Regions from separate parts of the Homo sapiens genome. Here region 2 is linked to region 1. Evidence: fine-mapped expression QTL. A gene starts in region 1. The other region holds a variant in brackets. All regions are shown on one strand. Distances are between the middles of the regions. Region 1 holds the start of ACBD3 (acyl-CoA binding domain containing 3). Region 2 holds the start of ACBD3-AS1 (ACBD3 antisense RNA 1).

The links. PIP is the estimated chance that this variant, and not a neighbour inherited with it, causes the effect.
Region 2: its variant is fine-mapped to the expression of ACBD3 in monocytes after interferon gamma (Fairfax 2014, PIP 0.95). The same link has a PIP of 0.9 or more in NK cells and monocytes.

What each region holds. Positions count from the first base shown.
Region 1 is chr1:226,178,759-226,194,850 of GRCh38, forward strand. ACBD3 (acyl-CoA binding domain containing 3) reads right to left here and starts at 7,983. Exons shown (of 8, transcript NM_022735.4): 1 at 7,632-7,983. The coding sequence starts at 7,917. LOC101927247 (a long non-coding RNA gene) reads left to right here and starts at 9,138. Exons shown (of 2, transcript XR_001738504.2): 1 at 9,138-9,175. It also overlaps the pseudogene RPL34P7. RefSeq lists enhancers at 3,167-3,667, 3,668-4,168 and silencers at 7,474-7,953, 7,590-7,884.
Region 2 is chr1:226,137,789-226,153,880 of GRCh38, forward strand. It overlaps ACBD3 (acyl-CoA binding domain containing 3), which reads right to left. Exons shown (of 8, transcript NM_022735.4): 7 at 14,547-14,831; 8 at 6,891-9,033. The coding sequence ends at 8,822. ACBD3-AS1 (ACBD3 antisense RNA 1) reads left to right here and starts at 10,215. Exons shown (of 2, transcript NR_146443.1): 1 at 10,215-10,280. It also overlaps the pseudogene LOC124904586. The variant CCAAAA/C (reference allele first, on the strand shown) is at 8,046.

The DNA.
Region 1 (16,092 bases):
GGTGATTGAATTGCAAACTAAATCTCAAATCCTCTCTACAATATCCACCCAGCAATTGCTAACCTATGCTTGAATACTTCCTGGTGATAAGAACTCACTGTCCCAAAGCAGTCTAATCCATCTTTGAATAGCTGTGATTCTTAGCTCTTTATTCTGAGGTGGTATCTCTCAACTCCATCCACAGGGTTTATTTCCTGTCCTCAGCATTAACTAAAACACATCTAACTAATTAGACCTCAAGAAAGTCACAAAATATGTATTGTGTTTGCCCTGAGTTCTCTATTCTCTTGGCTACACATTCCCAGCTTAGTCAATCATACTTCAAATTTAAATTTAATTCCCAGCTCTGCTATTAAGTATATAACATGGACAAGTTATTTAATCTTTTGAAATCTGTTTTGTTATCAATAAAATAAATACTGCTCCTTAGGGTTCATATGAGTGTTAGAAATGTGTCCCAAAATCTTTGTATAGTGCCTGCACAGAGCAGACACTGACTAAACAGCAGCCATTATGATAATAATGGCAGGGACTTGAATTCCCACTAGGTACAAGTTGCTCTCTTCTGAATGAGCTCCATTTTGTTTTTAACCCTAAAGGATGATGCCTCAAACAAGCAGTATCCACGGCTTGTTTGAGGTGTACTCCTTGGTGCAGAGGAGAGCAGGACTATCTCTCTCTTTCCCTCATCCTAGTTACCATATTTCCACCAAAGCAGCCTAAGATCAAATCTGTTTTATTTCATGGCCATATCACACTGTTGCCTCACAGAGAATACACTTTGATTAAAATCCATCTTTTAGAAATATTAAAACTGGGCCAGGCGTGGTGGTTCACGCCTGTAATCCCAGTACTTTGAGAGGCCGGGTGGGCAGATCACCTGATGTTGGGAGTTTGGGACCAGCCTGACCCAACATGGAGAAACCCCATCTCTACTAAAAATACAAAAATTAGCCGGGTGTGGTGGTGCACACCTGTAATCCCAGCTACTTGGGAGGCTGAGGCAGGAGAATCGCTTGAACCCAGAAGGCAGAGGTTGCAGTGAGCTGAGATCGCACCACTGCACTCTAGCCTGGGCACCAAGAGTGAAACTCCGTCTCCAAAAAAAACCAAATATTAAAACTGAAAAACCAACTAGGTGCAGCAGCTCACGCCTGTAATCCCAGCACTTTGGGAGGCCGAGGTGGATGGATCACAAGGTCAGGAGTTCAAGACCAGCCTAGCCAACATAGTGAAACCCTGTCTCTACTAAAAATACAAAGATTAGCTGGGTGGGGTGGCACGTGCCTGTAGTCCCAGCTACTCGGGAGGCTGAGGCAAGAGAATAGTCTGAACCTAGGAGGCGGAGGTTGCAGTAAGCCAAGACTGGGCCATTCCACTCCAGCCTGGGCAACAGAGCAAGACTCTGTCTCCCAAAAAAAAAAAAAAAAAAGGATAATACAATGCAGTATTCCTAAATCAATGAGTAGGAAACACTCTGGGAATTGCCTAGCATATACTAACTGCTTAGTAAAAGTTTTAAGACTTCCCCTCCATTAACTCAAAACATCCATAATCAATTCTCAGAAGTACCTCCTTTTCAACAACATAAGCAGCCACAAAAATACCAATAGCCAGGCATTCTGCTAAGAGTTTATATATATAATTTCTTATAATTCCTAAAACAACCCTTTGAGTACAGGAAAGCACAAAAAGTTAACAAAATTAAGTGGCAGAGCAAGGAAAACACACCCTAAAGAGTGTTGACTCCAGAGCTTACCTTTCTAAATACTGATTCACAGTAGCTCTTGTATTAGTTAACTGATAAAACATCTGCTCCTGGGCATTGGCTACACTGTCCACTTTCTGAAAACTCATCAAGCTACACACTTAGTATTTGTGTACTTTAGTGCACTGCATGTGTGATAAAGGGAAGCCTCGGGAAAATGTTAAAATCACTTACATTAAAAACATATACACACTGGGCACAGTGGCTCACGCCTGTAATTCTAGCACTTTGGGAGGCCAAGGCAGGTGGATTACCTGAGGTCAGGAGCTCGAGACCAGCCTGACTAACATGGTGAAACCCTGTCTGTACTAAAAATACAAAAATTAGCTGGGCGTAGTGGCATGTGCCTGTAATCCCAGCTACTCGGGAGGCTGAGGCAGGAGAATTGCTTGAACCCAGGAGGCAGAGGCTGCAGTGAGCTGAGATCGCGCCATTGCACTCCAGCCTCGGTGACAGAATGAGACTCCATCTCAAAAAAAAAAAAAAAAACAATGACAACAACAACACATACACATTCCTGAATCCAGTCAAAGGAAAGTTTTGGTTCAGCTCAAATTTAACATGAACTTGGTGGCTATAATTGTTTTTCTGTCTTACATCTGTCTCTCTTAGGTCTATATATCCTCCTACAGTATTACATACTTATGTCTAAAGGTAAAGATAATAAAAGGGAAAAAGAACTCTAATAGATGTTCCATAGTAACAAACTTGAAATTATCTGAGGATAGACCACTGAAGTCCAGGAGGCACACTAATTATATATGTTTCCAATGAATAAATTACAGCTGTACAGTATTTTAAAACATTAAGGAAGCCATTTATAAATGCTCTTGTAGTTGCCTATGTTTAAAGAAGACAAGAGGAAATGGAACCATTTCAGTTGTCCATTTGTTTGCTATCATTAATATAATTCTCTCCCAACATATAATACTCTACTATCAGTAACACAATTGGGTATAATCAATAGCAATGCTAGTAGAACTATTCCATAAAGAAAATGAGTCCAAGACTTACCTTCCAAATAACTGAGGGGCCTGAGGCAGGATCCTTAACTCAGAAATGGGATTAATACCCTTACAGAAGGCCTCTTGGAGGATTAAACAAAATAATGTACATACAGTTTTTGGCATAGTACCTGAGATTTAGTAAACATCTACTCAATAACTATTGACAATTATTACTCTGAAATCTTAAATTAATGTAAACAATCTACCAGCTTAATGTAATACAGTAATAAAGTATTAGAGAAGGAAAAGTCCACCCCAAAGAACTCTAAAAACCAAAATACAATTCCCCAGGTCAACTCCATCCAAGAAGTATAAAGGTCATAATAAAATGAACCCACTGGATTCCTGTGGGTCCTTAACCCATGGAGATAAGAAAACCTAGCTTAACATTGTTAAAATAGAACTGGGCAACTCTGGCCGGGCGTGGTAGCTCATGCCTGTAATCCCAGCACTTTGAGAGGCCAAGGCGGGTGAATCGCTTGAGCTCAGGAGCTAAAGACCAGCTGGGCAACAAAGCAAGACCTCTGTCTCTACAAAAAATACAAAAATTAGCCGGGCATGGTGGCTCGTGCCTGTGGTCCCAGTCACACAGGAGGATGAGGTGGGAGGATGGCTTGAGCCTGGGAGGCATAGGGGGCAGTGAGCCAAGATCGCACTACTGCCCTCTAGCCTGCATAACAAAACCAGACTGTCTAAAAAAAAAAAAAGAATTGAGCAACTTTGCTCCTCCCTTTAAAAACCTCCAGTGGTTCCTCATCTTCTAATTTACTGACAAAAAGGCCGAACTATTAATACTTACATGGCCAGGCGCGGTGGTTCACGCCTGTAATCCCAGCGCTTTGGAAGGCCGAGGCGGGGAGATCATTTGGGGTCAGTCCAAGACCAGACTGGCCAACATGGTGAAACCCCATCTCTATTAATAATACAAAAATTAGCTGGGTGTGGTGGCACAAGCCTGTAAGCTCAGCTACTCACGAGGCTGAGGCAGGAGAATCACATGAACCCAGGAGGCAGAGGTTGCAGGGAGTGGAGATCATGCCACTGCATTCCAGCCTGGGTGACATAGCAAGACTCCGTCTCAGAAAAAAAAAATGACAATGGCATGCAAGTCCTTCCAAGAATTGAACTCAGTTACCTTCCCAGCTCTCTCCATCAAACTGCTTTCTATTTTCCATTTTGCAAACAGACATGCTTTGACTTCTCATGGCTTTCATGGCTCTTGGCCTTCCCCCCTCTGGAATGGCATCTGCTCCCTCAGTCCTCCACACTGTACTGCAGTTGTCACTGGGTCCTTAACTCCTCTTTTGGACTCTAAGCAAAAGATAACGTACTATTCATTTATAGTTGTAACCTAATATAAAACTATCCATACTGAAAAGTCAATAATGTCTGAAATTTAGATGGTAAAATGCTAACTTACATTTACCCACATCTTCATCTATTTTACTTTTACTGTCATAAAAAATTAAGAATAGTTGACGTAATTGATTCAGTCACTGGCCTATTACCACCCTGACAAGGATGGAATAAGAAATAGGGCTTGTCATTTCCAACCCAAGCTATTTGCAATGGAAAAATATATCCATGCTTTCAAGATTCGTATTTATTCCACAGTGGAAGAGAAAATGTAATGTTCTTTCCTTTATTTATTTATTTTTTTGAGATGGAGTCTTGCTCTGTTGCCCAGGCTGGAGGGCAGGGACGAAATCTTGGCTCACTGCAAGCTCCGCCTTGAGGGTTCAAGTGATTCTCCTGCCTCAGCCTCCCAAGTAGCTGGGACTATAGGCGCCTGCCACCACGCCCAGCTAATTTTTTTATTTTTTTATTTTTAGTACAGATGAGGTTTCACCGTGTTAGCCAGGGTGGTCTCGATCTCCTGACCTTGTGATCCACCCGCCTCGGCCTCCCAAAGTGCTGGGATTACAGGCAAAAGCTACCACACCCGGCCGAAAATGTAATGTTATTTCTAATTCTCGTGAGATACTGGTATAAAACCATAGAATAGCGATTAAAAGTCCCAGCAAGACTGACAAAACACCATGTGTTCCACCAGAAAAATCCACACATTAAAACAAAGGTGCCGGGCACGGTGGCTCACGCCTATAATCCCAACACTTTGGGAGGCCAAGGTGGGCAGATCACCTGAGGTCGGCAGTTCGAGACCAGCATGGAGAAACCCCGTCTCTACTAGAAATACAAAAGTACCTGGGCGTGGTGGCACATGCCTGTAATCTCAGCTACTCGGGAGGCAGAGGCAGGAGAATCACTTGAACCCTCGAGGCAGAGGTTGCAGTGAGCTGAGATCGCGCCATTGCACTCTAGCCTGAGCAACAAGAATCAAACTCTGCCTAAAAAAAAAAAAAAAAAAAAAAACCAGGCTGGGCACAGTGGCTCACACCTGTAATCCCAGCACTTTGGGAGGCTGACGCAGGAGGATCACGAGGTCAGGAAATCGAGACCATCCTGGCTAACACGGTGAAACCTCGTCTCTACGAAAAATACAAAAAATTAGCCGGGCGTGGTGGTGGGCACCTGTAGTCCCAGCTACTCGGGAGGCTGAGGCAGGAGAATGGAGTGAATCCGGGAGGTGGAGCTTGCAGTGAGCCCCGAGATGGCACCACTGCACTCCAGCCTGGGCGACAGAGTGAGACTCTATCTCAAAAACAAAAAACAAAACAAAGGCAGCATTACTTGGCTCACTCCACATTCCATAATTCTTCTGACTGCTTTTACATCCTTCCCTTTTGTCAGTTAGTGTCTCATATACTAACAGTCTCCAATGACACATGCAGAAAGGTAGCTTTTAATTGCTACACAGCTATTTCTCCTTTTTAGTACCTGGATATTGCTTTGAGAACTTCATTTAGGAAGTGAGTGAACCACACCTATCAGTGTAGCTTTATTCTCTAAGGTGACTAACACCTAGGCCCCAAGTTATAAGTTTCCCCAGGATTCCTACCACTCAAGACACATGTTAAAATAATCTGTTAGGTTAAGACCACTGAATCTTAAATCTGAGACATCATATTTTATAGAATCCAGCTCCCTTTATACATATGAAACTGATTCTGGAAAAGTTAATTGTCTAGTTTACAAGGTAACTAGAATCCAGAGCTTCCTGACTCTCCAAACAATGTTAAGTATACTACACGTTACAGTGTTTTAATCTTTTTCTTTGTTTTGAGACAGAATTTCACTTTGTCGCCCAGGATGGAGTGCAGTGGCATGATCTCGGCTCACTGCAACCTCTGCCTCCCATATTGAAGCGATTCTTTTTTTTTTTTTAGACGGAGTTTTGCTCGTCGCCCAGGCTGGAGTACAATGGTGCCATCTTGGCTCACTGCAACCTCCGCCTCCCGGGTTCAAGTGATTCTCCTGCCTCAGCCTCCCTCAGTCCTGCAACAGAGCAGGACTCCAGCTCAAAAAAAAAAAAAAAAAGGAATTAGTTCATTTCTACTCTTACTCTCTGCTACAATATACTTTACTGAAAAATAAGTTCCAAGAATAAAAATTTAAGATGGAATGTAGCTATATGAATTGTACAGAAACCACCTGATTTTTATCAAGTGGTAATATATCATCACTACAGCAAACTCTAAATTCAAGCCGGTGATCTAAAAGTCAAATGATCCAAAACCCATTAGCCATTACCAATTCCCCAAGCTAGTTAGTACACAGAGGGCTCAACTCATTGTGCAATGACCACGAATATGTCATTGAATGTGAAATGATCAAATGTTCTGGAAAATTTATAAAACTTTCACTAGTTTGCACAATTAAAGTTATTTTGAGAGAAAACAACTTCCGTGTGTATCATTACATTGAACTACTCAACTTTGGCTAGTAAAATATGTACTCCAAAAGGTACTCCCTCTGGGGAAAGTGTCATAAATATGCTGCTCTGGAATGTACGTGGAACCTAGCAACCACTTTTAAAGTTGCATTTGCTGATGTCCCTCCCTGTCCATTCGCCCTACAAGACTAAGTATCTTTAAGAATCAAACTAACGGGCTTTCATCAGTTTTTCCCACTGACAAAAATCATGTGATTGGTCTCTCCACCATTCGACTAAGTGAATCACCCAATTAAAAAAAAAAAAAACCGCACACTACAATCTTGCTCTAAGACAAGAGACATTTAACAATTAATTATGCGAAAAGCACAGAAGGTACTGTTAGGCCTTACTCTGAGAATTCACTCTTGCACATTGCTTACAATGTAAAATTTTAACCACCTAGAAGTTACTAGAACATAGTGGACATCTCTCCTCAAGAGTTTGACAAGCCGGAGAGGATGATGAGCTTAACACTTTACTTCCTCCTCTCTGCCACATCAATCTGCCGGGGGATCAAGTCCTGTTCCAGTTTATGGTTCCCAAGAATGGCTGGAAAAGCTATGTATGGAACCTCTTGACAGATTTCTTCCACTAAGGGTAAAAATCGGCGGGTTCTGATGTGACAAGCCATGGGAAATAGGAAAAGAAAAGCGTCAGTTAAAAAAATAATAATAATAAAAGGCAATCCCAGAATGGGATCCTTTGGAAGAAAGTGGGCTCATTCTTCCACCAGGGCTCCTGGAAATCCCAGAAGCTAAATCAGGTAAAATGTCCCGGTAACCTCTGGGAGGCGGGACATGACTGCTAAACCAAGGTTGCAGGCCCGTCAGGGGTGTGACCTAGTGGCCAAGCGGGTAGTGACAAACTTCGGGTACCCCCAAGGAGGGAACCCCGCTTGAGTCACCACAGCCCAGTATGAGTGGGTGAGGGCAAGTCTGGTCCAGTCACCCTGGGGACCACAGCCCACGCCGGGCTCCCGGGGCCGGGCAGAAGCGGCGGGGGTGGGGCTGGCCCGGCTCACCTTTGAAGAAGCGCAGTGCCAGGCCGTACAACTCCTCCAGGCCGAAACCCCAGCGCTGCTCCAGCCGCCGCGCCTCCTCCGCCGCGCCCCCAGCCGCCGCCTCCCCGGGCTCGGGCTGCTCCCCTGAGGCGCCCGGGCCGCGACCGGATCCAGGTGGCGAGGGCGGTGGCAGCGGTGGCGGCAGCAGCGGGGCGCCCTCCGCCCCAGGCCGCTCCTCCGGGTCCGGGCTGAGCGTGAGGCCGTCGACGGACACCTCGAGTCGCTCTGCGTTCAGCACCGCCGCCATCTCCGGCTGCTGCACCTCCTCAGCGGGGACAGACGGCAGCCACGTATCGACTTCCTGCTGACCTCTGACCTCCGCTTACCGACACCGGAACTTCCGCTGCTGAGGAGGCTGGAGGGCTCCGGGAGAGGGGCTGAGGCCTGGCGCCCCACCCCCTCCGGAATCGTCAGTTGCCCTGGCTCAGCGACCACCCTTCAGGCTCCCCAACTCCCGTTGGTCCCGAACTCCCCTCCCCCGCACCCCATCCTTTCGGATCCCAGTTGCTCCAGGTGGGCGGGTGCTACCACCCCCACCGCTCGGTTCGGTGCTGCGGCTGTCAGTGCCCAGCAGGGGCGGGGTCAGTGGAGCCCCGCGCGGGGGTCGGAGTAGGGAGGATTGACGAGGTCGGCCAGCACCCAACCCTCCAGGTCAGAGGCCCTTCACATTTGCAGGGGCCTGCGTGGTTGGCAGAGCTCTTTTGCCCACCACCATCTCGTTTGGCCTTCACAGCAACTCTAAGGAAATGCAGGGCAAATTCCCAATTTTTTTAAAAGGGGAAACTGAGACTGCAGAGAAATTCAGTGACTTTGAGGTTGCAGACGGGGCTGATCCTGGTTTTGCAGGAAGCGCAGCTCATACAATTTGTGGGGACCCTCATTAGGAAAGAGTACAAAAAGTTACGCGCAGAAGGGTAGGAAAGTGAATGTATATTTAGAAAGAGAAAGAAAAAACAAATGATATTTTAAAAGTTAATAAAACCCACAAACATCACACACATAACCGTAATATTTTCATTGACTGCCTGATATTCTTCTACAGGGCGTCTGAGAGCCCAGAAACCTATTTTTTTCTAAAAGATTGAAGTCGCCCCCGACATTATGTATATTCACCTGTGTTTCCAGACTTTGGGAGCACCATTTATGATCATTTTTCCCACCTTTGTTTTGGCTGCGTACTTCTGATTGCCTTTTCCTATAACAATTATTTTGTAACTTTTTTTTTTTTTTTTTTTTTTTGTTTTTTGCAGACAGTCCTGCTGTGCCACCCAGGCTGGAGTGTAGTGGTGCAATTCGGTTCACTGCAACCTCTGCCTCCCGGGTTCAAGCAACTCTCCTGCCTCAGCCTCCCAAGTAGTTGGGATTACAGGTGCTCACCACCACGCCCGGCTAATTTTTGTAAACTTAGTAGAGTCAGAGTTTCCCCATGTTGGCCAGGCTGGTCTCAAACTCCTGACCTCATGTGATCTGCCCGCCTCAGCCTCCCCAAAGTGCTGGGATTACAGGTGAGAGCCACCGCGCCCGGCGTATTTTGTAATTCTCTATAAAGAAAAGAGAAAGATCAGTCTTTTCTCCAGCATGGCTGATTAAATTTGTTTCTTAATAATTGTTTATAAATTTATTTCAGCATCACAACTCATTACTGATATTGTTAACGTACTTTTTTAGGGTTATTGTTCAGTTTGGGAAACCTCTCTCAAGTTTCATGGATGTGCTATGAGATTTTTATGGCCGTTTGGCTGCTTCAGTGACAATTTTGTGTGTGGTTTTTACTGAAGCCCTAGAGAGTTTTTTTCTTTTTTTTGAGACGGAGTCTCTCTCTGTCGCCCACGCTGGAGTGCAGTGGCGCGATCTTGGCTCACTGCAAGCTCCGCCTCCAGGGTTCACGCCATTCTCCTGCCTCAGCCTCCTGAGTAGCTGGGACTATAGGTGCCCACCACCATGCCCGGCTAATTTTTTTGTATTTTTAGTAGAGACGAGGTTTCACCGTGTTAGCCAGGATGGTCTCAATCTCCTGACCTTGTGATATGCCCGCCTCGGCCTCCCAAAGTGCTGGGATTACAGGCGTGAGCCACCGCGCCTGGCCGAGGGTTTTTTTCAGGACAAGATTTGTATGCTGCATTCAGACAGGATCTCATTCATTACGGTGGATAAGACATATAACTTCACATACAGACAGACTCACTGTAGTACAACTATAAGTTTTTGTCCCATAAACATAGGGTTTCTAATCTATTCCCTTTTGCATGCTTCACATAAAAACATGAAGTATGGTGCAGTTATAATTGCAGATATGACTTAGATTCTCAGTGAGTGAGAACCTTCATTTTGATTAGGCATTGAGAGAATTGATCCCTCTCCTTATAATCTTCCACTTCTGATGGTTGGAAGCATATTTTTAAGTCTTTTAATTTTAATTACTCAAAGAAGCTTCATTTTTTATTTAGCTTTCTGACCCTGTGCTTGTGCCTTCAACACTCTCACAATGATTTTCTTTTCCTCGATAAGGAAAACATGCTTGATCCTGTCACAAACACATATAGCACACATGGAACCACCATAGGCCCTGCTGACATGGTTTTTTGTGTTTTGGACAATCTCATAAGACTTCGGGTCTTATAGCACGAACCCCTTGAAGTCTGCGTGGGTACACACCACAGTAGATTTTGGTGCTTTCCCAGCCTTCTTGGTATAAAGGTAAGCAATTATATTACCAGGGGTTCAGGACAGCCTAGTTTTATTAGAAGCTGTATTGTAGGAAAGCCTACAACAGTATGTCAAACGCTGGACCATTCTATGTGCCTATAGACAACATCCCCAGAAGAGGAAAAAGAATGGAAGAATTTTACTAGCTCTTTCTTTTCTTTCAAACCTTGTTGCTCCTCCACTACCCAAGTACTTCCTGTGTCAGGCAACATAGGGTTCCTTCGCCCTTTGGCCTTGCACTTTTGTGACATGGTGCTGGCTGAATTGACATAATGGGCAGTAGGTATATTCCAGAAAGCCATTCCTACACCCATGGTGAGCAATAATTTAAAAACATGCAGAAGTGACTGCAAACCACTTAAATGCATGCCACTGACCCCAAATTAAATGTATCCCTATTCATTGTCCCCTTAGCCAAATCCCCCACAAAGCCTATAGCCATTTCAATACCTCCTAACCAGAGGAGGATGACGAAGGGAAGTTAGAAACGAAGACAGAGGTCTTAAATATCTTACTCTCAAAACTGTTACAGAAGTGTATACTGCTAAGGCCGCTCTAAGGGCCTTGGGAGGGGCCTGTGTAAGCAAGGGGCCCTGAAGCTTGAGCTTCATTAACTTTATGGTAAACCCACTTCTAGTTGTAGAGGACTAAAAACTCTAATTCTACTGCTCTAAGGTCTGTGTTCTTCCCACTTAGCTTGGATCTTTATATTTAGCTTCATTAGCTTAAAAATATGCATATTATGTGCCTAACCTTCAAAATGTTATATATACATATATATTCCCCTGTGTTTTGCTCAGTGTTCTACCTTTAACATTCAATAACTGTTGGGATGATAATGAGTAGGGTAAATATAACCCTTCTTCATGAAATGCTAGATTCTGTTTTCCAAGTTTTCACGATAAGCATTTCTTTTGTAATCAGAAAAAAAGTTATTTTTTTAAAAAGTATACAATAATTATTAAAACCTATAGAATATACCTAGGAAGGTAGGTAAAATATGGTAATTAATTAATTACATGGACTTTTTATACAAAAATTAGCTGGGCGTGGTGGTAGGCACTTGTAATCCCAGCTGCTCAGGAGGCTGAGGCAGGAGAATTGCTTGAACCTGAGAGGTGGATGTTGCAGTGAGCCAAGATCACACCACTGCGCTCCAGCCTAGGTGATGGAGAGAGACTGTCTCAAAAAAAGACATACATTAAAAAAAATTATATGGACTTTTTTATTGTTTTGTAATTTAACATATTGAATATGGTTGGAAAACCCAAACATCCTCTAGACCAAGCATCTGAACCTCTTGCTAATCGAAACATCAAGGGCCATTGTGTAGGTGGTTGCCCTTAATGACTAAAAACATTAGGGGTTGGCACAGTGCGTCATGCCTGTAATCCCAGCACTTTGGGAGGCTGAGGCAGGAGGATTGTTCGAGCCCAGGAGTTTGAGAACAGCCTGGGCAGCATAGGAAGACCCTGTCTCTACAAAAAATAAAAAATTAGCTGGGCATGGTGGCATGTGCCTAGGGTCCAGCTACTTGGGAGGCTGAGGTGGAAGGATCACTTGAGCCTGGGAGGTCAAGGCTCCAGTAAACCATGATGGCGTCACTGCATTCCAGCCTGGGCGACAGAAGGAGACCCTGTTTCTAAAAAATAAAATTAAAAAATTAGAGAATATAACTTCGCTTTAACAGTTCACTGTGGGAGATGAGTTCCAGACACGCTCACCTGAATGTCTTATTAAACTGCAGATTCTGACTCAGTAGGTATAGAGGGAGGCCTGAGAGTATACATTTCTCATAAGCTTTCTGGTGATGCCGATGCTGCTGTCTACAGACCACACTTTGAATAGCAAGTCTAGGAAACGTGTTTTTCCCATGCTTTATTGAGTATAATTGTTGTATAATAAACTGCAAATATTAAAGTTTACAATATGATGAGTTTTGGCACAGGCATATACCTGTATAACCATTACCATAAAATAACAAACATCCATTACTGTTTTGTAATTCCTTCTTCCCCCAAGATTTTTCAATAGATCTTTGTTATAATGCACTTGTCACAGTAGAATCTAACTTACATAAACAGTTCAGCGCAACTATCTGTTTTTCTTTTCCTTTTTTTTTGAGACGGAGTCTCGTTCTGTCGCCCAGGCTGGAGTGCAGTGGCGCGATCTTGGCTCACTGCAAGCTCCGCCTCCCGGGTTCACGCCATTCTCCTGCCTCAGTCTCCTGAGTAGCTGGGACTACAGGCTCCTGCCACCACACCTGGCTAATTTTTTTGTATTTTTAGTAGAGACGGGGTTTCACCGTGTTAGCCAGGATGGTCTCAATCTCCTGACCTCGTGATGCGCCTGCCTTGGCCTCCCCAAGTGCTGGGATTACAGGCGTGAGCCACCGTGCCCGGCCAACTACCTGTTTTTCTATATCCCTGTCTTTTATATGTGAGGAGGCACACAGATTGATCAAAAAGGTGTATTTTTGAAAACTTTCAAATATCTTCTCCATGTCTGTTCTTTTATAAAAGAGGATACTTTTGGGTGTTCTGCCTATGGTGTACCCATTCTTTTATTCCTTTACTTTCTTAATAAACTTGCTTTCATTTAAAAAAAAAAAAAAGGATACTTTTTTTTTTTTTTTTGAGATGGAATCTCACTCTGTTGCCCAGGCCGGAGTGCAGTGGCGCGATCTCGGCTCACTGCAACCTCCGCCTCCTGGGTTCAAGCAATTCTCCTGACTCAGCCTCCTGAGTAGCTGGGATTACAAGAATGCACCACCAGCCAGGCGCGGTAGCTCACGCCTGTAATCCCAGCACTTTGGGAGGCCGAGGCGGGCAGATCGCGAGGTCAGGAGATCGAGACCATCCTGGCTAACACAGTGAAACCTCGTCTCTACTAAAAATACAAAAAATTAGCTGTGCGTGGTGGCGGGCGCCTGTAGTCCCAGCTACTCGGGAGGCTGAGGCAGGAGAATGGCTCGATCCCAGGAGGCGGAACTTGCAGTGAGCCGAGATCGCGCCACTGCACTCCAGCCTGGGTGACAGAGCAAGACTCCATCTCAAAAAAAAAAAAAAAAAAAAAAAGAAGAATGCACCACCATGCCCAGCTAATTTTTGTATTTTTAGTAGAGATGGGGTTTCACCATGTTGCCCAGGCTGGTCTCGAACCTCTGATCTCAGGTGATCTGCCTGCCTTGGCCTCCCAAAGTGCTGGGATTCCAGGCATGAGCCACCGCGCCCAGCCAAAAAAGGATACTTTCCAATCCGCAAACTTTGCTGTGTGAATTTCTTAAGCTCCATTCCATTCAATAATTTTCCACATGAAGTGTTTACCATTTCTGAAATGCTTTCTGAAATTTAGACTTTCCATTTGTTCTCTCCACATATTTTCATCTTTTCTGTAAATATCGTGGATCACTAGACAGGGACTGAGTTCAACTTTTTGTTTCCTGCTTTTTCTGGTGAACTAATAATCAGTACTCAGTAAAGTTTTGCAGTTAGTCTTATTTAGTAATGCAGTACCCTTTAGTAGTGAAAATTATTTTGTATTCCTTGACTGCAAGCACTTAGAGATCAAGGGGCATTTCCCTGGACTTCCACAGTCCCTAGCACAGGATAGGAAACATGGTAGGTGTTCAGAATGTCTTACTGAGTGAATGAATGAAGGTGTAATTACACTATTATGTACGATATCAGTTCAGCTCAACATACATGTAAGGAGTGCCTTGTATACCAGGTATTTTATTTTATTTTATTTATTATTATTTTTTTTTTTGAGATGGAGTCTCGCTCTGTTGTCCAGGCTGGAGTGCAGTGGGATGATCTAGGCTCATCACAACCTCTGCCTCCCGGGTTCAAGCAATTCTCCTGCCTCAGCCTCCTGAGTAGCTGGGACTATAGGTGCGCACCACCATGCTCAGCTAATTTTTGTATTTTTAGTAAAGACAGTGTTTCACTATCTTGGCCAGGCTGGTCTCGAACTTGACCTCGTGATCCGCCCACCTTGGCCTCCCAAAGCGCTGGGATTACAGGCATGAGCCACCATGCCTGGCCGTATACCAGGTATTTTAGGATACAAAGGTGAGTGCTGTGGTATCTACACCCAAGGTGTTTATGGTCCAGTAGGTGAGACTGTGGCAAAAGCACCAAATTAGGGCCAGGCTTCCAGTGCTGGAATTTTACCAACTCGTGACGTTGAGTCAGTTACTTTACTTCTGTTTCCTCCTTTATAAAATGAGAATAATAGTACTATCCCCCTCTTAGGCTGTTGAGAGGACTGAATCTATGAATACTGTACATGTAAAGCACATAGAAAAGGACCTGTTTGAGACTAGGCACAGTGGCTCACACCTGTAAACCCAGCACTTTGGGAGGCCAAGGTGGGAGGATCACTTGAGGCCAGGAGTTCAAGACCAGCCTGGACAACACAGCGAGACCCTGTCTTTACAAAAAATTTCAAACATTGGCCAGGTGTGGTGGTGCACACCTGTAGTCCTAGCTATTCAGGAGGCTGAGGTAAGTGGATATTTGAGGTTATAGTGAACTATGATCGTGCCACTATACTCCAGCCTGGGCAACATAGCAAAAAGGACTAGCCTGACACGTACTGGGCCTTTAGTAAATTTTGTCCACTATTATATACAATGCTCCCTTACAATGTAAAAGAGAGTTTGCACACTCGGGGCTCCCAAGATAAAGCCTACCCACTAGTATCTTTTATTTGGCTTGGAAGAATTAGCCCCTATAATGCTTTAAATTTGAATTGGTTGCTAGCATTTTAAAATCTGGAATTTTAATGTAAAAATCCAGATTTATGACTTACCTTAAAAAACTAAGAAATCTGGCAACTGTGGGCCTGACACTGGTGCTTGACAACAATGAGGTGCAGTTGTGTAGAGAATGCCTTCTTCAGGAGAGACATGTGCTCTCAAGTTCTCAACAGTCCCCCAGCCCATGGTGACAGACACTGTCCATGCTATCTATCATGGACCTATATTTGGTTTTGTAGAAAATGATAAAAATCAGTTTATCAGCTGGGCGCAGTGGCTCACACCTATAATCCCAGCACTTTGGGAGGCCAAGGTGGGTGGATCACCTGAGATCAGGAGTTCGAGACCAGCCTGGCCAACATGGCAAAATCCTGTCTCTACTAAAAATACAAAAATTAGCCAGGCGTGGTGGTGTGTGCCTGTAGTCCCAGCTACTCAGGATGCTGAGGCAGGAGAATCACTTGAACATGGGAGGTGGAGATTGGAGTGAGCCGAGATCGCGCCACCGCATTCCAACCTGGGCGACAAGAGCAAAGCTCTGTCTCAAAAAAAAAAAAAAAAATCGGTTTATCATCTTACACAGCTCTCTATCAATTTATATTGTTACTTGCCTGACCACTGTCTTAGTCTGCTTGAATTGCTATAACAAAATACCATTTACTGGGTAGCTTAAAAACAACAGAAATTTATTGCTCACCATTCGAGAGGCTGAGAAGTCCCAGATCAAGGCTCCAGCAGATTCAGTGTCTGGTGAAGTCCTGCTTCCTAGTTTATAGATGGCCATCCTCTGGCTGAGTCCTCACATGGTAGAAGGGACAAGGGAGCTCTCTGGAGTCTCTTTTATTTTATTTTTGAGACAGGGTCTCACTCTGTCACCCAGGCTGGAGTGCAGTGGCGCAATCTCACTGCAACCTCCGCCTCCCAGGCTCAGGTGATCCTCCCACCTCAACCTCC
Region 2 (16,092 bases), 41 kb before region 1:
TGCTGGGATTACAGGTGTAAGCCACCACACCCGGCCTGTTGTATTGTTCTTATGCTGTATGTGAAGTAGTGTAATATATTTGAAAGTAGTCTGTGCTGTGTTAAAGATATATATTTTGGATCCAAGCACACTAAAAAACAACAAAACTAAAAATAAAACAGAAGAACTAATGTAATAAGTCAATAAGAGGAGAAAACAGATCTATAAAAAATACTCAATCCAAAAGAAGGCCATACAAAAGGGAAAAAATAATCCCAAGAACAGATGGGGGCTGGGTGCGGTGGCTCATGCCTGTAATCCCAGCACTTTGGGAGGCCGAGGCGGGTGGATCACCTGAGGTAAGGAGTTTGAGACCAGCCTGACCAACATGGAGAAACTCTGTCTCTACTAAAAATACAAAATTAGCCGGGCGTGGTGGCACATTCCTGTAATCCCAGCTACTTGAGAGGCTGAGGCAGGAGAATCACTTGAACCGAGGAGGCAGAGGTTGCGGTGAGCCGAGATCACGCCATTGCACTCCAGCCTGGGCAACAAGAGCAAAACTCTGTCTCAAAAAAAAAAAAAAAAAAAAACAGATGGGACAAAGAGAAAATAGCAAAACTGTATATTTAAATCCAATCACATTGATAATTACATTAAATGTAAATTGTCTAAACATGCCAATTAAGAGAAAATGACTGTCAGATTGGATTTTAAAAAGACTCAAATTATATGCTGTCAACAAGGAACCCACTTTAAATATAAAGACATAGATAAGTTAAAAAGTAAAAAGATGGATAGGTTGGGCACAGTGGCTCATGCCTGTAATCCTAGCACTTTGGGAGGCCAAGGTGGGTTGATGGCTTGAATCCAGGAGTTAGAGACCAGCCTGGGCAACAAAGTGAGACCCTGTCTATACAAAAAGTAAAAAAAAATTAGCCAGGTGTTGTGGTGCAAACCTGTAGTCTCAACTACATGAGAGGCTAAGGCAGAAGAACAGCTTAGAACCTAGGAGGTCAAGGCTGCGGTGAGTTATAACTGCACCACCGGTTATAACTCACCGCAGCCTTGACCTCCTGGGCTCTAAGCTGTCCCCCAGCCCGGGGGACAGAGCAAAACCCTGTCTCAAGAAAATAAAAATAAAATAAAATAAAATAAAATAAAAAAATAAAAAGATGGAATAAGATATATCATGTGAACTTTAATCAAAAGAAAGCACGAGTGGCAACACTAATACCAGATGAAATGGACTTCAGAACAAGGAATATAACTAGACATGAAGAGATATGTTACATAATAATAAAGAGGTCAGTTCATCAAGAAGCCATACAATCATAAACGTGTATACACCAACAGAAAACTTCGAAATAAATAAAGCAAAAATGGCCAAAAAAAAGTGGGGGGTGCGGGGGAGGAACAAATCTACAATTTAGTTGAATAATTCAAAACTCCTCTTTTGGTAACTGACAGAACAAGCAAACCTTACCATCACTACCAACCAACTTAACTTGGCTGACATTTACAGAACATTCCACCCAATGACAGCAGACTACACATTCTACTCAAGTGAACATGGAACATCCACTAAAAGACACCATTCTGGGACATAAAACAAGCCTTGGTAAATAAAAAAAAAAATGAAATAATGAAATTAAATTAGAAATCAACAACAGAAAAAGACTTGGGAAATCCTCAAATACATGGAGCCTAATACACTTCTAAATAACCCATGTAACAAGGAAGAAATCACAAAGGAAATTAGAAAATATTTTAAACTGGGCCGGGCTCGGTGGCTCACGCCTGTAATCCTGGCACTTTGGGAGGTCTAGGTGGGTGGATCACCTGAGGTCAGGAGTTGGAGACCAGCCTGGCCAACATGTGAAACCCTGTCTCTACTAAAAATACAAAATTAGCTGGGCATGGTGGCATGTGCCTGTAATCCCAGCTACTCGGGAGGCTGAGGTAGGAGAATCGCTTGAACTTGGGAGGCGGAGGTTGCAGTGAGCCAGGATTATGCCACTGCACTCCAGCCTGAGCAACAGAGTGAGACTCCGTCTCAAAAAAAAAAAAAAAAAGAATTTTAAACTAAATGCAAACAAAACCCCAATATATCCAAATTTATGAGATGTAAAAAAGCAACACTCAAAAGTTTTTAGCTTTGGATTAAGAAAAAGGGAGGCTCAAATCAATAACTTAAGTTTCTACCTGAAGAATCTGAGGAGCAGGGGAAGCCAAGCACAGTGGCTCACACCTGTAATCCCAGTACTTTGGGAGGCTGGGGTGGGAGGGTCATTTAAGCCCAGGAGTTCAAGGCTTGTACCAGTGTACTCCAGAGAGACCATGTCACAAACAAAACATATGGAAAGCTCGAACCATGAAAGTTTAATAAATCTAAATGAGGACTGGGTGCAGTGGCTCATGCCTGTAATCCCAGCACTTTGGGAGGCTGAGGCAGGTGGATCACCTGAGGTCAGAAGTTCCAGACCAGCCTGGCCAACATGGTGAAACCTCGTCTCTACTAAAAAATACAAAAAATTAGCCCGGCATGGGGGCGGGTGCCTGTAATCCCAGCTACTTGAGAGGCTGAGGCAGGAGAACAGCTTGAACCTGGGAGGTGGAGGTTCCGGTGAGCCGAGATGGTGCCACTGTACTCCAGCCTGGGCGACAGAGTGAGACTCTGTCTCAAAAAAAAAAAAAAAAAAATGGCTGGGTGTGGTGGCTCACATCTGTAATTCTAGCACTTTGGGAGGCTGAAGCGGGCAGATCACTTGAGGTCAGGAGTTCGAGACCAAAAACCCAAAGTGTGGCACCAATTATTTATGATGCGCACGACCAAAAAGACTGTAGTATCCAGAATATTTAAAGTACGCCTACAAATCAAGACATGTACAACAGAATAATGAACAAAGGATATAAATATACAACTCACAGAAGGCCAGTAACATATGAAAAGATGGTTATTCATGCTTATTATTTTTTATTTATTTTATTTTTTTTTGAGATGGAGTGGCACTCTGTTGCCCAGGCTGGGGTGCAATGGCATGATCTCGGCTCTTGCAACCTCCGCCTCCTGGGTTCAAGCGATTCTCCTGTCTCAGACTCCTGAGTAGCTGGAATTACAGGCACGCGCCACCAGGCCCAGCTAATTTTTGTATTTTTAGTAAAGACAGGATTTCACCATGTTGGTCGGGCTAGTCTTGAACTCCTGACCTCAAGTGATCCGCCCACCTCGGCCTCCCAAAGTGCTGGGATTACAGGAGTGAGCCACTGCGCCCAGCTCCACTGGTTATTAAGAAAATATAAATTGAAACCACAGATGAGATTCTGTTTTACACCCCACCAAACTGGTACAATTACAAAATCTGACAATTCAGCAAAGATATGGAACACAGGAACTCTTTTACTACTGGCAGTTTAAATTGGCACCACGTTTGAAGAGCAGTTTTGTATTGTCTAAAATAGACCTACATAGTTACGGCTTAACAATTCTGCTTCTTGGTATAAACACTGGAGAAACTTGCACATGAGCATAAGCAGACATGTATAAGAATTTCTTTTCTTTTCAGAATTCTGTTTCTGAGACAGAGTCTTGCTCTGTCACTGAGGCTGGAGTGCAGTGGTGCCATCAGCTCACTGCAGCCTTCAACTCCTGTGCTTAAGTGATCCTCTGGCCTCTGCCTCCCTAGTAGTTCAGGAAGGAATAAATTTATTTATTTATAAAATAAAAATGCCAAGAATTTATGATCCAGTATCCACTTTTTTTTTTTCTTTTTTTGAGGCAGAGTCTCACTCTGTCACCCAGGCTGGAGTGCAGTGGCACGATCTCATCTCACTGCAACATCCGCCTCCTGAGTTCAAGCGATTCTTGTGCCTCAGCCTCCCAACTAGCTGAGATTACAAGTGCCTGCCACCACGCTCGGCTAATTTTTTGTATTTTTAGTAGAGATAGGGTTCTGCCATGTTGGCCAGGCTGGTCTTGAACTCCTGGCCTCAATTGATCTGCCCACCTCAGCCTCCCTAAGTGCTGGGATTACAGGCGTGAGCCACCACACCTGGCCCAGTATCCACTTCTTGGTATATACTTTTGAAAACCTCATGCAGATTTGCGGAGAGACAAATAATTGGAACATCACTTCTAATAACAATGATAACAAAAAAAATCAGAAGTAACCTAAATGTTCAATAACAGAAAACCAGCCAAAAAGACGTTCTATGGAAGAACACACAGTTGATTAAAAGAACACGATAGAACAATACTTCAAAGTTCTCCGGGCCGGGTGCAGTGGCTCACGCCTGTAATCCCAGCACTTTGGGAGGCCGAGGCGGGCGGATCACGAGGTCAGGAGATTGAGACCATCCTGGCTAACACGGTGAAACCCCGTCTCTACTAAAAATACAAAAAATTAGCCGGGCATGGTGGTGGGTGCCTGTAGTCCCAGCTACTCGGGAAGCTGAGGCAGGAGAATGGCGTGAACCCAGGAGGCAGAACTTGCAGTGAGCCGAGATCGTGCCACTGCACTCCAGCCTGGGCGACAGAGCGAGACTCCATCTCAAAAAAATTAAAAAAATAAAAATTAAAAAAAAGTTCTCCAAAACACAACCTGGAATTTTAAGTTGCAAAATGTAGACCTTATGAAAAACATGTTCACATTTCCATACTGTGCCATGCCCAAAAAAGGTGTTACCTTTAACTGGAGACATTTAAGTTAATGACCTTGGAAAAAGATAAAAATCGTTTTTATTGGCCTGGCACGGTGGCTCACGCCTATAATCCCAGCACTTTAGGAGGCCTACAACAGGCAGATCACCTGAGGTCTGGAGTTCGAGACCAGCCTGGCCAACATGGTGAACCCCCATCTCTCCTAAGAATATAAAAATTAGGGCGGGGTGGCCGGGTGGCTCACACCTGTAATCCCAGCACTTTGGGAGGCCGAGGCGGGCAGATTACCTGAGGTCAGGAGTTCGATATCAGCCTGGGCAACACGGTGAAACCCCGTCTCTACTAAAAATACAAAATTAGCCGGGCGTGGTGACACATGCCTGTAGTCCCAGCTACTTGGGAGGCTGAGGCAGGAGAATCGCTTGAACCTGGGAGGCGGAGGATGCAGTGAGCCGAGATCGCGCCATTGCACTCCAGCCTCGGCAACAAGAGTAAATCTCCGTCTCACCAAAAAAAAAAAAAAAAAGAAAAAAAAAATTAGGGTAGGGTGCTGTGGCTTATGCCTGTAATACCAGCACTTTGGGAGGCTGAAGCGGGTGGATCACTTGAATCCAGGAGTTTGAGACCAGCCTGGACAACATGGCAAAACCTCATCTCTACAAAAAATACAAAAATTAGCCAGGCATGGTAGTGTATGCACCTATAGTCCCAGCTACTGGGGAGGCTGAGGTGGGAGGATCGCTTGAGCCCAGGTCGAGGCTGCAGTGATCTGTGATTGTACCACTGCACTTCACCCTAGGTGACAGAGTGAGACCCTGTCTCAAAAAAAAAAAGAAAAAAGAAAAAAGAAAATACATTTTAAGAAAACTGAAGAACTGAGATATACGTGAGACAAAAGTCCAATGCTGATTCACACGTAATTTGAAAAGCTAATGAATAGAAATGAAGATCTGCTCTCCCCCAAGTAGATACACAGGCACACGTTTTTAGGTTGCAGATGGAAGTACTGAACTGAGAAAAAGCCAGGGAGAGAAGCAAAGATGGTTTTGGTTGTAGATTGTTGAACTTTATTTTTTTTTTCCCCAAGACAGAGTCTTGCTCTGTCGCCCAGGCTGGAGTGTAGTGGTGTGATCTGGGCTCACTGCAACCTATGCCTTCCAGGTTCAAGCGATTCTCATGCCTCAGCCTCCCGAGTAGCTGGGACTACAGGTGTGCACCCCCATGCACAGCTACTGACTGTTGAACTTTTATTTTTATTTTTTTGAGACAGAGTCTCGCTCAGTCAGCCAGGCTGGAGTGTAGTGGCGTGATCTTGGCTCACTGCAAGCTCCGCCTCCCAGGTTCACACCATTCTCCTGCTTCAGCCTCCCGAGTAGCTGGGACTACAGGTGCCCGCCACCACGCCTGGCTAATTTTTTGTATTTTTAGTAGAGATGGGGTTTCACCGTGTTAGCCAGGATGGTCTCAATCTCCTGACCTCGTGATCTGCCCGCCTCGGCCTCCCAAAGTGTTGGGATTACAGGCGTGAGCCACCGCGCCCGGCCCCTGACTGTTGAACTTTAAGCCCTAATGAATTATTAGCAATTATTTATTATTTTGAACCGGTTGCTTCTCCTGCTCCAAAAGATAGATGGTCAAGACTCGGTAGCATACTTTCCAAGATGTGCTTACCTCAACTGCTCTCCTTAATGCGTCTTCAGTCTGGCTTTATGGTATCCCACACAGCAAAAATAACCAAGATGGTCACCTCATCTGTCTCCCCAGATTTCAAAAGAAAAAAATTATGCCAGTCACCCTGCCTATCAGTGGGGTCATCTGGATGTAGCAACCTCATTCTGGGACTCCACATCACACTGATCGCGCACTTCCCCACAAGTGCTCTGCAATCATCCACCCTGAGCAAGCGAGGGCTCTGCCTCTGGAGATCCATTAAAGTGTGTGGGGTCCACATATTTAATGGAACACACTACATACATGGTAGTGTAGAGAAACAACTTTATAACCTAGTCATTTTCAATAAGAAAAATCAGTGCTAGCCTTTGCATTTAAAAGTGTGGAAAAATTTAAATCTATTTTAACTCACTAAGGTAATTAATAGTAAAACTAAATAATTGGCCAGAAAGAGTTGTTTTTCAACTAGAGCCTTTTAAAACAAAAAAGATGTTTGAAACATTTCTTTTTCTCCTACCCAAATGTTGAAATACTGTACTAATGCTTCAGAGAGTAACTATATTAATGAAACATCAACAAGTTACAGATAAACATTTTAATTGATTAAATATATTACTTTCAAGATCTTTTTGAAATCGCACTTGTACTGTACTAATCAACAGCCAAAGGCAATAAGAAAGTTTAAAACCAAAAATATTCTGACATGAACACATGACAGGAACCGCTGCTATGTAAAGTAACATACACTGCTCCCAAGAACAATGATATTTTTAGGAGATAATTCATCTTAACATGTGCAAGGACAAATTTGTAATCAAAGGCTGGAAGAAATATATATTAGTGCCTGCTTTTTAAAAGTTTATTTTACATTTTAAATACAGTATTTTTCTCATAAAAAAAAAATCCAGGAAGTGCCTAACTCCATGGTTTCTATACCATATGTACATGAAAGCTGACAGAGAGCCTGACAAATGTTCTGGATGTAACAGTATGAACACCTATGAGCTGGGACTACTTCTGAATCAAAATTAAAAAACACAAATTAAGCACTGCTTAAGAAAAAAAAAATCCAGTTTCTGAACAACCAAAAGAGAACAGAGTTAGATATGTACAAAACCAGGTATTAAAAAACAGAAAGAAATACAGCACACAAAAAACTCAAACAACCCATATGTAGTGAACTGTATATACTGCAGTTAATGAAAACCCTCCTACAAGAAGTGATTTAGGATTTGAAATTTTAAAAATCTAAGTACTTCAGTAACAACATACAATAACAACATTAAGTGTATATTGCCATCTTTGTCATTTTCTATCTATACCACTCTCCCTTCTGAAAACAAGAATCACTAGCCAATCACTTATACAAATTTGAGGCAATTAATCCATATTTGTTTTCAGTAAGGAAAAAAAGATGTACCTCTTCCCGTCAATAAAGAAATAACACAAATTAAAGCTATAAAATTTAAGCATGGGCATATGTATTTCCAATTCTCCTTAATAAGTAATTCCAAACTGGAATAATGTGGGGTTTGTGACTAAGTAGTAACAAATTAAAAGAAAATAGACTGTCTCTGGCAGTGATTTCCATATTAGTGCAATGTTACTTCCCATATGCTGAATTATATTTAAATGATTTTATGTATTTTAATTCAGTAGGTGCCAATTTGAGTTTATAAAATCCTTAATTTTATTCTTTGTGCAGAAAAGTTTCAATTTGAGATACTCTATGAAG[CCAAAA/C]CAAAACAAAACAAAACAAAAAACCTGTATTTTGCTACTAGTAGTATGAATACCAAATAAAGATACAAGGATTCAAAGTTTGTGGAAGTTCCTGAAGAAAAATCTCTGAGGTGTTCTACGTATCTTGATACTTCAATTATCAATTAGTTTTGAACATTCTAGTTTAAGATTATCTCAGAAAATAATTCTCTGTAATATAACTCTGAACTAAACAGCTGCACCCAAAGCAGAAACAATCTGGGTCATTCTGAACGAGATCAAACTGAGGCCATTTCTTTTTCTATTATAATCTGTGAGGTGTTGAGTTTTTAAGTTTTAAAAATGGCCTTTAATCAAAGCCAGCTGCACCTGATATAGACTTGTTAACTTATGGATTTCAAATTAGAGGACACTGTAACTACGGGCTCTCATAAGACACATGGAGCAGGCAGCAAGGGGCTAACCATCAGCCGGGTAAGGTCAACGTTGGGGTGTTTTATTTTGGAGACTTTAAATATTTAACATGTAGCTCATGTAACTTCAGCATCCACTAGTGACTCTGCTGGTCAGCACCCAAGGGCTGGATGAGTCTGAGGAATCTCCTTTAACCCCAAAGTATGAATGCTAAAGAGTCTCAAGGAAATTTTGATTCCCAGCAAGAGTTCACAAACCATCAGACCAATATCAATAAGGTAAACTGTGACTCTAATGCTCCACAAAAGTAAAAAGAAATTTCCAAATTAAATGTCATCTTCTGCCCAACCCTAGACTCCAGACTTTGTAACAACATTTTTATCTAGTATAATAGACTCTGTAGTAGACTGATTTTGACCGCCACAAAGAGTAGGAGTTGTCAAACTTGAGGAGATAGACTCCTCTCCCTGGATATTGATGGCTGCCAGCATACACCTCCTCATGACAGTCCCGTCGGTACACAGGCACAATCTCATCCAGCAAAGGCTTGTTGGCATTCTTTTTGGCTTTCTCTTCACAACCGATGTTTTCTGTAAGAACAGAGACAAGTCAATGAACAGATTCAGGAAAACCACACTTGCATCAGGCAATTAAAATCTATCCTTTCTTTTTTTTCTGGAGACAGAGTCTTGCTCTGTCACCCAGGATGGAGTGCAGCGGCGTGATCTCAGCTCATTGCAACCTCCACCTCCTGGGTGCAAGCGATTCTCCTGCCTCAGCTTCCCAAGTAGCTGGGATTACAGGCGTGCACCACTACATCCAGGTAATTTTTGTATTTTTAGTAGACATGGACTTTCACCATGTTGGCCAGGATTGTCTCAATCTCCTGACCTTGTGACCCACCTGCCTCGGCCTCCCAAAGTGCTGGGATTACAGGCGTGAGCCACCGTGCCCAGCCTATCCTTTCTTTGAGAAACTGCTCTTGTTGGGAATTCTGTTGAACCATTTAACAAGTTATGTGCATGTGAGCATTTATTAGTTCGTTCATTCATTCATTCATTCACTCATTCATTCAAATACCTAAGTATGTGCTATACACCAAACCCTGTTCTGAGCCCTGGGAGCCCAGTGATGAACATCTAGTGGTAGCAGTGGTCAGCATCCTATCTCTTTCTGTGCTTACTACCATTCCTATTTCAAGGTCCCATTTTCCCCTTTCCATAGCCATTCAATTCCTAATTCATCCTCAGGAATTTCACTCATCTGAGTAACATGAAAATGTTGCTCTCATCATCCTCCTTCTGACCAATATGAGTCCTCCCCATTTTAGAAAGATGGAAGATGATTTGTGAGGACTATTGCTTTCTGTATATCTTAAATATAAGCAGTAAAATGAAAAAATCATAGTAGAGAGATAGGCATTCAGAGATACTCTGAAAATTCAATTATTTTCACTAGGCCAATTTAACCCAGAGATGATCTAAGTGGCAAAAAATGGGCTCTGAAAGGTTTGCCCCGGTTAAGAGTTTTTTGAACTGTAATGCTATGAGGTTAGGAAAAAAAATGCCTCTAGAAACCTACAGGAATGAGAAAATTATGAACCAGCTTCGAAGTCACAGTTTAACATATTTAATACAAACCAGCTCAAAGAGGTCAAGGGAGTATTCAGCACAGAAGACAAGACTTTCGGGTTTATGGTTGTTGTTTTTGTTTGTTTGTTTGTTTAAGAGACTGGGACTACAGGCATGGATTTTCAGGTTTATAACATGGCAGAGTGAATTCTGGCAACACACTGAGTGATGCTTGTCAATGGCCACTATCAGGAATTTAAAACAAGGTAAGTTTGAGAAATTCTCACCGTCTATAGCAGATTAAGGAGATATGATGACTGACTATAATGTGGCATCCTGGAAAGGATCTTGGAACATTAGGTAAAAACTAAAAACATCTGAATAAATATGGACTTTAGTTAATTAATGAATCAATGTATCAATATTGTTTCATTAGCTGTGATGAGTGCACCACAGTACAATGTAAGATGCTAACAACAGAGGGAACTTGGTGCAGGGTATATGGGTACTCTTTGTGCTATCTTTGTAACTTTTCTGTAAATCTAAAACTATTCTAAAATTAAAAGTTTATTTTAAAAAAGCAGATGGCACTCTTATAAAGGTAGGTCAAAACCAGATTTACTTAACCACAGAAATACCTATAATTAAGCATGTTTCACATGCAAATGAGAAATACAGAACCATCCAAAATGTACACTATTGTTGACATCCAAGAAATAGACTGGTCCATTGATTCAAGACTCAAATTTTGTTTTAAATCTATAAAACTAAAGATTACTGGGATAGATGAAAAGGCATCTTTTATGAATTTAAGCCAAGGTTTAGGACCTGTAAACAATGAAGAAAATGGAGAATTAAAACAGGAGGATGTGTTACCATCCATGCTTCTTCAGAGAAAGCAAACTCCTCTGTCTACCTTTCAAGACCTAAGGAAGAAAAACCAAACCAAAACCCAAAAAACTCAGACTCTTCTACCATATGAAATACAAGACACGGTAGGACAGTAGCTTCTAAGGCATATGGACAAATACAATTTGTGAGCTAAATCTTTAAATGGGATGAAGTGACGCTCATGTAATGAACAATTCTTAGGAATGATAAAGCTTCACTGCTGTGAGGCTAAAATGTTTTAGCTGCAAATCATTTTATGATTAGGAATGGTACAAGTACAGGGAATGCCATCTTTCATTTGAGGGACATATTAGAACTAAGATCAAGGATATTAAGGTTCTTACCTCTAGAAATGAACCCCTGCCATTTTCACTAGTGATCTTCCCAACACCAATATAACCCCAAAACTATCATCAGCTGAGGGTTCAGACTAGGCAGTAACCACCTTTTAGAAGCTCTCTAATAGGCAAGCCAGGAGAAATACATTACCTCAACCAACTTCTGAACAGAGAATTCTTATTCACAAAGCTCTTTCATTTTTTTTTTTTTTTGAGACGGAGTCTGGCTCTGTCGCCCAGGCTGGAGTGCAATGGCACGATCTCAGCTCACTGCAATCTCCACCTCCCGGGTTCAAGCGATTCTCCTGCCTCAGTCTCCCAAGTAGCTGGGATTACAGGCATGTGCCACCATGCCTGGCTAATTTTTGTACTTTTAGTAGAGATGGGGTTTCACCATGTTGGCCAGGCTGGTCTTGAACTCCTGACCTCAGGTGATTCACCCACCTCAGGCTCCCAAAGTGCTGGGATTACAGGTGTCAGCCACTGCGCCCAGCCATCTTTTTTTTTTTTTTTTTTTTTTTTTTTTTGAGATGGGGTCTGGCTCTGTGGCCCAGGCTGGAGTGAAGTGACTTGATCTCAGCTCACTGCAACCTCTACCTCCTGGGCTCAAGCAATTTTCCCACCTCAGCCTCCCAAGTAGCTGGGACTACAGGTGCACACCATCACACCCAGCTAGTTTTTTGTATTTTTGGTAGAGACAGGGTTTCATCATGTTGCCCAGGCTGGTCTTGAACTCCTGAGCTCTAGCAATCCATCCGCTTTGGCCTCCCAAAGTGCTGAGATTACAGGCAGGGGCCACCGTGCCTGGCCTCACAAAGCTCTTTGTAAGTACAGTAATTTGTATGCATACAAAAAACTTTCCTTCCCAGACATCTGCAGACAGTCTGACTTTAATGAGTCCCTGTGATGCAACAGAAAGGACAGAACAGGTTCTGATGTTGTTGAAGGTCACATGAGAAAACAGTAGTGCCCCCTGGCTAATCTGCTACAGTCCTGCTCTCTAACTGCTTTTTATTTTTTTTAATTTTTTTTTTTTTTTTTTAGAGGGAGGGCCTAGCTCTGTCGCTCGGGCTGGAATGCAGTGGTGTGATCATATAGCTCACTACAGCCTCGAATTCCTGGACTCAAGCAATCCTCTTGCCTCAGCCTCCCATGTACCTGGGACTACAGGTACATGCCACCACACCCACCTAACTAAAAAAAAATTTTTTTTGTCGAGATGTGGTGTCACTCTACAAAACGGGTTGCCCAGACTGGTCTTAAACTTCTGGCCTCAAGAGATCTTCCTTACTTGGCCTCCCCAAAAGCTGAGATTACAGTCATGAGATACCATGCCCAGACAGGCTTTTTCTTTTTTTTATTTTTGAGACGGAGTCTCGCTCTGTTGCCCAGGCTGGAGTGCAGTGGTGTGATCTCGGCTCACTGCAACCTCTGCCTCCCAGGTTCAAGTGATTCTCCTGCCTCAGCCTCCCGAGTAGCTGGGATTACAGGCACCCACCACCACGCTCGGCTAATTTTTATATTTTTAGTAGAGACAGGGCTTCACCATGTTGGCCAGACTGGTCTCGAACTCCTGACCTTGTGATCCACCCACCTCGGCCTCCCAAAGTGTTGGGATTACAGGCGTGAGCCACCGCGTCCGGCCCAGGCTTTTTCAATCTTACATTTTTTCTTTCTGTCTCAGTCAGTATTATTTATGAGCAATGCTTTGCCTTGCTGGTGGTACTCAGGAATAAAGACTGATGAAAACAAAATGCCGTGTAAGACAAAGCAGCTCATGCTTCCATATTTACCAGCTAGAATCTGGACCTGTGGTATAATGAAGGATTTTAAATCTGCTTCTGGGGTAAAAGTCAATCTGCAAGATGTACTGAAATTTCTGGGATACTCTGATGGTTCATGTAGATAATGATACGGAATTATCTTTGGATTATCTTTTGATTAGCATTAAATATTAACTGTTAAATTGAATATTAAACTTAATTTCAAGAAATGTATGGCACACCTGCAGTGTATGTTTCTGTAGATAGCCCCAGAGGCCCCAGGGTGTTGCATGGTATGGTAATATGATTGGACAACTCTGTACTTCACAAGTTGATAGAACTTTCAGGCTTATTCCATGTACTTTCAATAATATCTTTTTAACTTTATCCCACTGTAATCTGTAAAGCAACATTGCCAACCCTCTTCAAGAACAAGCAGTCTGTTTACAAGCCACCTGAAAGGTCAGTTAGTCTGGAAGAACTGAGACATGGTGCTTTTCCATTCTCACAGGGCATGCATTCCATATCACTTTCAATCAAGTCAACAAATAAATTAAGTGCTTATTAAGTGTATATAAACAAACCCTACATTCTAACTTTCCTGGGTAACAAAAATAAAGAGACCCTCTTCTCAAAAAGCAATACATTTATAACCTATTTCTTAGACCAAGATATTTTAGACTGTCCTTTAAAACACCCAATTTTGTCTACTTATTCAGAGGAAGTAAAAAAATTCCACTCTAGCAAAATAGGGATTTCCAAATGGAAAAATAATTGAAATTTTTTTAAGTGGACTATTCTGGTGAGTTTCTGTATTTACATAAAAAATTTTAGAATAATGACCTAAAATGCTAATATCAACAATATAAATTTAAATAAATGCCAGGGTTGACAGGAATTCTTACTTGCTCCTTTAAAATTTTTCAAAGTGGGTCGGGTGCTGTGGCTCACGCCTGTAATCCCAGCACTTTGGGAGGCCGAGGCGGGTGGATCACAAGGTCAGGAGTTCGAGACCAGCCTGACCAACATGGTGAAACCTCGTCTCTACTAAAAATACAAAAAATTAGCCGGGCACAGTGGTGCGTGCCTGTAATCCCAGCTACTCAGGAGGCTGAGGCAGGAGAATCGCTTGAACCTAAGAGGCCGAGACTACTGTGAGCAGAGATCATGCCACTGCACTCCAGCCTGGGTGACAGAGTGAGACTCTGTCTCAAAAAAAAAAAAATTTTTTTTGAAGTAATCTTGCATATTTGGCTTTTCAACACACACGGTTAGAAGTAAAATAGTATTCAGAAAGGAGTAAAATAGCAAATTGCCAAATAGATTTTCCTGGCATTCAGAAAAATTCAGGTTTAGGCCCCAGTCCCCTACAGGAGCCTGGCCTCATAACATTTTCAGCCCAAGGTCCCACTAATGAAGAAAGTGTTCCCTAACCATGAAGTGTTAGTCAGGAAGCATAAGGCTGGGTGACACCTGAACTATGTACCATTTCTGCCAACACACAACCCAGCAGCTACTGAATATGGACCAAGGGTTCTACCTTCTTCCTCCTCGTCGTCATCGCTGGACTCACTGACATGCACGCTGACAGCAGTGTTTGGAGAGTCTGTCCATTCAAAATACACCCCAAACCCAATGTCATAATTGTCTGTGGCAAATTCCCAAAAGAGATATGATCCTTCTTCATGGGTGGGTACTCGAACAGTGACCACTTCTCCTCGGCCCACTGTAATCACGGAATCTGCATCCTGCTGAATCTTCTCTTTGAAGTCTTTGATCTGAGGTCGTGTCCACATGGATGGAGCTGCTATTACTGGAAGAGATTCTAAAGGCAATAGGTATTAAAAAGCTAAAGAAAAAGAGCCTTCACCCTGCAGGTAGCCACATTTTCATAGCACTACCTGATCAGTTGTACTCAGGCACCAAGTACAATATGGTCTAGCTTAGATCAAGGACTTGGAGGAATAAAAAAGCCTCCCCATGGGAGTCTCTCCAGATTACTATGTTTAACAATGTTGCAGGCACTCAGAGGTCATCGTACTTCTTCAAGTAACAATGGCAGCCCACAATTTTAGAAACGAATTTTTTTCAACACTCCCTCTATGGGGATTCAAGAATGACCTTGGGAAGGCCCCAGCTGGAGTGAGGGAAATATTCTAGCAAGGAAGAGAGATTCTGGCTTTAGGAATAAATTACTCTTGTGGATGTGAACAAAGAAAGCTGGACTTTGACTTCAGCCTGTCTGTTGAAAAATTCTTCACCTCCAACTATCCCAAAGTTCTAGGGGCTATTCTAAAGGAGCTCAAAGAAACAAAAACTCGGACAGGATTAGAACCACTAGGGACTGAGAAAAAGGGGTAAAGTCTTGTTACTGAGCAGTACCTATGTGCACTTGACTATGCAATAAGTTTTTCAAAGTTAGTCACAGAGCCTTTGAAATATTTTCTCTCATTTGAAGATGCTAGTATAATCCCTTGATAAGAAAAAAAAAGGGAAGGGGGCAGTAAACCAAGGGATTTCAAAGCCTTTTCTGAAGCAATTATTACTTGTTCTAAACAGACAAGGAAGATCTCTGAAACCAAATTTCTTATGAACCATACCACCATCCCTGACCACTGTCACTGAAATGCTCTCCTCTTCCTCCTTACTTAGTTAACTCCTCTTGCTTCAGATATCTCAGGTCAATTGTCCCTTCCTCTGGGAAGCCTCTGGTGGCCTCTCTGACTAGGTCACACTTCCCTGTTTTACATTCTCTCAAAGATAATGTACCTCTCTCTCCATCACCGTACTTATCACAGCTACAATCTACATTTTCTGTGTGTTATTTTGCCTCACCACTGTACTCCTAGCACTCAGGAAACCTTCAACTAATTGCTGAATGAACAAATGAGCTGCCCATGGAAAGCTAGTAGAGCTTTGAAAATGCAGTTATTTTCTAGGCAACATGATACATTAGTCTCAAAAATATATCTATTTCTATGGTAGCCAGCCTCCAAGATGGTCCCCAGAGATTCTCACCTCTGGGTCTTCATGCACTTGTGAGGTCACCACCCACAATATATAAGGATTGGTATGTGTGACCAACA